2 separate regions of the Homo sapiens genome follow, and region 2 is linked to region 1. A link means that fine-mapping ties the variant in region 1 to the expression of a gene that starts in the linked region. Tissue or cell type: regulatory T cells. Region 1 holds a variant in brackets; the other region holds the start of a gene. All regions are shown on one strand. Distances are between the middles of the regions.

Region 1 (2,681 bases):
GAAATCAGAGGCATACTGAAGGACATTGAGACACAAAAAACCATTCAAAAGATCAACAAATCCAGGAGGTGGTTCTTGAGAAAAATGATGAACTAAGTAGACTACTAGTTAGACTAATAAAGAAGAAAAAGATCCAAATAAACACAATTAGAAAAAACAAAGGGGATATTACCACTGACTCCACAGAAATACAAATAAACATCAGAGAATATTACAAACATCTCTATGTACATAAGCTAGAAAATATAGAAAAAACAAATGCATTCTTGGACACATACACCCTCCAAACCCTGAGCCAGGAAGAATTTGCATTTGTGAAAGGACCAATAATGAGCTCCAAAATTGAATCAGTAATAAATAGCCTACCAGCCGAAATAAGCCCAGGACAAAACAAATTCATAGCTGAATTCTACCAGATGTGCAAACAAGAGCTTATATCATTTCTGCTGGAACTATTCCAAAATATTGAGGAGGAACTCCTCCCTAACTCATTCTGTGAGGCCAGCATCATCCTGATAACAAAACCTGACACAGACCCAACAAAAAAAGAAAACTTCAGGCCAATATCCTTGATGAATGTCAATGCAAAAATCCTCAAAAAAATACTGGCAAACTGAATCCAGCAACACATCAAAAAGCTTATCTACCACAATCAAGTTGGCTTTACCCTTGGGATGCAAGGTTGGTTCAACATAGGCAAACCAAAAACTGTGATTCATTACGTAAACAGAACTAAAGACAAAAAATCACAAGATTATCTCAATAGATGGAGAAAAGGCTATCCATAAAATTCAACACCCTTTCATGTTAAAAACTCTCAAACTAGGTATTAAAGAAACAGACCACAAAATAATAACAGCCATCTATGACAGACCCACAGCCAACATCATACAGAATGAGAGACAAGAGACTGAGAAAAGAAATAAGACACAGAGACAAAGTATAGGGAAACAACAGTGAGCCCAGGAGACCGGCACTCAGCACACCAAGGACCTGCACCAGCACCAGTCTCTGAGTTCCCTCAGTTTTTATTTATTATTATTTTCATTATTTCAGCAAAAAGGAATGTAGTAGGAGAGCAGGGCGATAATAAGGAGAAGGTCAGCAAAAAACATGTGAGCAAAAGAATCTATGTCATAATTAAGTTCAAGGGAATGTACTATGCCTGGATGTGCATGTAGGCCAGATTTATGTTTCTCTCCACCCAAACATCTCAGTGGAGTAAAGAATAACAAGGCAGCATTGCTGCAAACATGTCTCATCTCCCACCATGGGGTGGTTTTTCTCTGATCTCAGAATTGAACAAATGTAAAATCGGGTTTTATACCGAGACATTCAGTTCCCAGGGGCAGGCAGGAGACAG[C/T]GGCCTTCCTCTATCTCAACTGCAAGAGGCTTTCCTCTTTTACTAATCCGCCTCAGCACAGACCCTTTATGGGTGTCAGGCTGGGGGACGGTCAGATGCTTCTCATCCCACTAGGCCATATTTCAGACTATCACATGGGGAGAAACCTTGGACAATACCCCGTTTTCAAGGGCAGAGGTCCCTGCAGCTTTCTGCAGTGCATTGTGCCCCTGGTTTACTGAGACTAGAGAATGGCAATGACTTTTACCAGGTATACTGCTTGTAAACATTTTGTTAACAAGGCACATCCTGCACAGCCCAAGATCCCTTAAACCTTGATTTCATACAACACATGTTTTTGTGAGCTCCAGGCTGGGGCAAAGTGGCTGGGGCAAAGTGGCTGGGGCAAAGCTACAAATTAACAACATCTCAGCAAAGCAATTGTTCAAAGTACAGGTCTTTTTCAAAATGGAATCCTTATGTCTTCCCTTTCTATATAGACACAGTAACAGTCTGATCTCTCTTTCTTTTCCCTACGCACAAGAGAAGAATGCCCTCTCTCACCACTCCTATTCAACATAGTATGGGAAGTCCTGGCCAGAGCAATCATGGAAGGTGAGGAAAGAAAGGGCATCGAAATAGGAAGAGGATAAGTCAAACTATTTCTGTTTATACACGACATGATACTATATCTAGAAAACCCTATGTTCAAAGACCAAAAGGGTTTTTCAGCTGATAAAAAACTTCAGCAAAACTTCAGGATTCAAAATCAATGTACAAAAATTACTAGTACTCCCGTACACCAACAACCAAGACAAGAGTCAAATTAGGAACACAATCCCATTCACAATTGCTACAAAAATAATAAAGTACCTAGGAATATAGCTAACCAGGGAGGTGAAAGATCTCTACAAGGAGAATTCTAAAACACTGCTCAAATAAATCAGTGGTAACACAAACAAATGGAAAAGCATTCCATACTCATGAATGGGAAGAATCAATATCCTTAAAAGGGCCATATTGGCTGTGCACAATGGCTCACACCTGTAATCCCAGTACTTTGGGAGACCGAGGCAGGCAGATCACGACGTCAGGAGATTGAGACCATCCTGGCTAACACAGTGAAACCCTATCTCTACTAAAAATACAAAAAATTAGCTGGGCCTGGTGGTGGACACCTATAGTCCCAGCTACTCAGGAGGCTGAGGCAGGAGAATGGCGTGAACCCAGGAGGCAGAGCTTGCAGTGAGCCAAGATTGGGCCACTGTACTCCAGCATGGGCAACAGAGTGAGACTCCATCTCAAAAAAAAAAAAGAAAACAAAACAAAACAAAAGAAA
Region 2 (2,681 bases), 870 kb after region 1:
CTCCAAGGCACCCTACACACTAACCCACAAAGCAGCCAACTCCCTAGAAAGCTCAGCAAACCATAGAGTTCCACACAACTTATGGTCGGACGGTTACCCAGTTGTCGGATTCAAAACCCTACCTCTCCTCCAAGGAGGCCAGGACAAAACACCAAGCAATGGACCTCACCTTCATTCACGTCAGGAAACCACAAGAAGTATTTGAAAAAGGAAGCAAAAGGACGGGACGCAGGAGGGGACTTCCTGCCCCACTATACACAGCACCGCTCGTTCAAACCACTCAAGGGGCCCTTTCCCGGGGGCACCAAAGCGCAGAAGGCAGAGGGACCAGTTTGGAGGAGATCACAAACTCAGAGGAGCCAGGTTACAGACAAGCAGCCCTCCTCCCAGGCCATACCCCAATACCAGGCATGCTTCAGTAGCGTCCTCGAGGGGACTCCGTCAGGGATGCACAAGGACCACTCACCTCCTACCTCCGCCGGACTTCATCTCCCCTCTCCGCCCACTCCCACCTCACGTACTCGGCCCCCAGTCGCCTCTACACCCCGAACCTCTCCGGTGTTTCGGTCTCCCCCGGCAAAATCCTTCTTCCTGCCCCTCGGCCCTCAACCTGCGCCTCCCAAACGGCGGCGCCCGCGTCCCCTGCTCTGTTCCGCCTCCTTCGCTGCGGCGCCCGCCCCCGCCCCGCCTCTCCGGTCTCCGCTCCGTAACTGCTCAGCTCTGCTCCGGCTCCCCGGCGCGGCCCCTCACCCGGGTGGAGCCGATGTCCATCATCACCTCCTCGAAGGCCGCCGTCTCCTCGGCCTGACGCTGCTTCTGCAGCGCAATCTTCTCACTAAATTTGCGCGGATTGGAAGCCGAGGCCGTGGCCGAACCAGGCCCGTTCGCCCCCGACGTCGCCATCTTCCTTCCCCGTCCCTCCCTGCCACCCTCCCAGTACCAGCCGCGGCCTCCGCCGCGGCCTCGGCCCGGCTCCTCCAGCCGTAGCCACCGCCGCCTCAGCGAGCACCGCGAACCCGGCCCCAGCCTAGCCCTGACCTGTTGCGCGCGGGGGCCGCCGGGAATTGTAGTTTGTTTACGAGACTCCTTCACATCCCCAGTCACGCAGCACTAGGAGGAAACGGACTCCACTTCCCAGCAGCCCTGCTGACTCCGGAAACTGGGGACTTGGCTCCACCCTCTCGGCTACTCCCTGAGAGGTGCAAGCTGGGAAGAGTAGTTCTAAATTAGCCCTGAGACTACGAACGGAAAGGAGAGAGGGATTGAAGAGAGAAGAAAGGAAGAGGGAGGGGAGGGAAGAGAAGGGAAGCCGAGGGGTGGAGACCGGGAAAGAAGTACCAAGACACAAAGGAGGAAAAATTAGGTCATCTTCAGGGAAGGGGACTATCGGGTCCTGAGTGAAAACAGTGAGACCAAGAATCTTAAAACAGCTGTAAACATCTGGGACTCAGGCCCTCTCAGGCTGGCCACATGCCCACCCCTTTCCCAAAACAAACGAATCAGATACTGTACAGATGTCTAGAAACATCTTTTATTTGGGTAACAGGTCCCAAAACAGGTCAGTTAATAAAATAGATTCTAAAGAATATGTCCCTATGCACAGCCCTCCCTCCCCAAAAATAACGCTGGGGGTAGGCATTGCCCTTCCCCCTTGGGCTCCTCGGGTGTATTTAAAAAAATGTTTTGGCAGCTCAGTGTTTATCATCTGGGCATGGGACACCATGTCCATGTCCCCATATTCCTAGGGTACAGCAGCAGTAGATGGCTGCAACAACCTTCCTCCTACCCCAGCCCAGAAAATATTTCTGCCCCACCCCAGGATCCGGGACCAAAATAAAGAGCAAGCAGGCCCCCTTCACTGAGGTGCTGGGTAGGGCTCAGTGCCACATTACTGTGCTTTGAGAAAGAGGAAGGGGATTTGTTTGGCACTTTAAAAATAGAGGAGTAAGCAGGACTGGAGAGGCCAGAGAAGATACCAAAATTGGCAGGGAGAGACCATTTGGCGCCAGTCCCCTAGGAGATGGGAGGAGGGAGATAGGTATGAGGGTAGGCGCTAAGAAGAGTAGGAGGGGTCCACTCCAAGTGGCAGGGTGCTGAAATGGGCTAGGACCAACAGGACACTGACTCTAGGTTTATGACCTGTCCATACCCGTTCCACAGCAGCTGGGTACCCACCTCCAGCCTCCCATGTGAGCCTGTCCTTATGTATAGTGTCCAACCTCTGATTCTAGCAGTCAAGTGTCTTCCCCAATCCTAATGTCCCCTGATATGTCTCTAGCGACTTGACCATCTCTTGTTCCTTGGGACTGGGGCCAGCCTCTTGTCTGCCCACTTCCCTCTCATTAGTCAGATAGCCCCAAAGGCTCTATCTTTAGCTCCCAGAGAACTTTTTGGTCCTCAGTATTTCCCTTCCCCTTTCCTTCCTATTCCCCACAACTGGGGGAGGGAAGGGAGAACAGGGGCACCTGATCATCAATCTCCCCTGCCCCTCTCTTGAAGCCCCCTAGATTTGGATGAAGAGCAGGCCAGTGAGCAGGGCAAAGCCTGCTAGGAGCAGAATGACCTTGAGGATCCTTTGCTCAGAACTGGCCAGCTCCTGGGGCAGGATTTCCAGAAAGGTGATATAGAGAAAGGTGCCAGCTGCCATGCCCTCTAGCACAGACTGGGCCAGCTGGTGCAGA

Alleles and levels. Positions count from the first base shown, and alleles are read on the strand shown. Sizes are in standard deviations (SD) of each study's normalised expression.
For the expression in regulatory T cells of the gene that starts at base 1,018 in region 2, allele C in region 1 goes with a higher level than allele T (small effect, 0.27 SD a copy in Bossini-Castillo 2019).

Evidence for each region. PIP is the estimated chance that this variant, and not a neighbour inherited with it, causes the effect. A credible set is the group of variants that fine-mapping cannot tell apart.
Region 2: CRTC2 starts here. The variant in region 1 is the best candidate, but not a certain one, in a credible set for the expression of CRTC2 in regulatory T cells (Bossini-Castillo 2019, PIP 0.65).

The regions. Positions count from the first base shown.
Region 1 is chr1:153,087,396-153,090,076 of GRCh38, forward strand. It overlaps a transcript of SPRR2B not described here. Among named protein-coding and RNA genes, the nearest start is that of SPRR2E, 5.8 kb to the right of the region's middle. The variant C/T (reference allele first, on the strand shown) is at 1,364.
Region 2 is chr1:153,957,595-153,960,275 of GRCh38, forward strand. CRTC2 (CREB regulated transcription coactivator 2) reads right to left here and starts at 1,018. Exons shown (of 14, transcript NM_181715.3): 1 at 751-1,018. The coding sequence starts at 903. It overlaps SLC39A1 (solute carrier family 39 member 1), which reads right to left. Exons shown (of 4, transcript NM_001271958.2): 4 at 1,516-2,681. The coding sequence ends at 2,504. RefSeq lists enhancers at 98-147, 208-427, 438-487, 1,048-1,247 and a silencer at 648-797.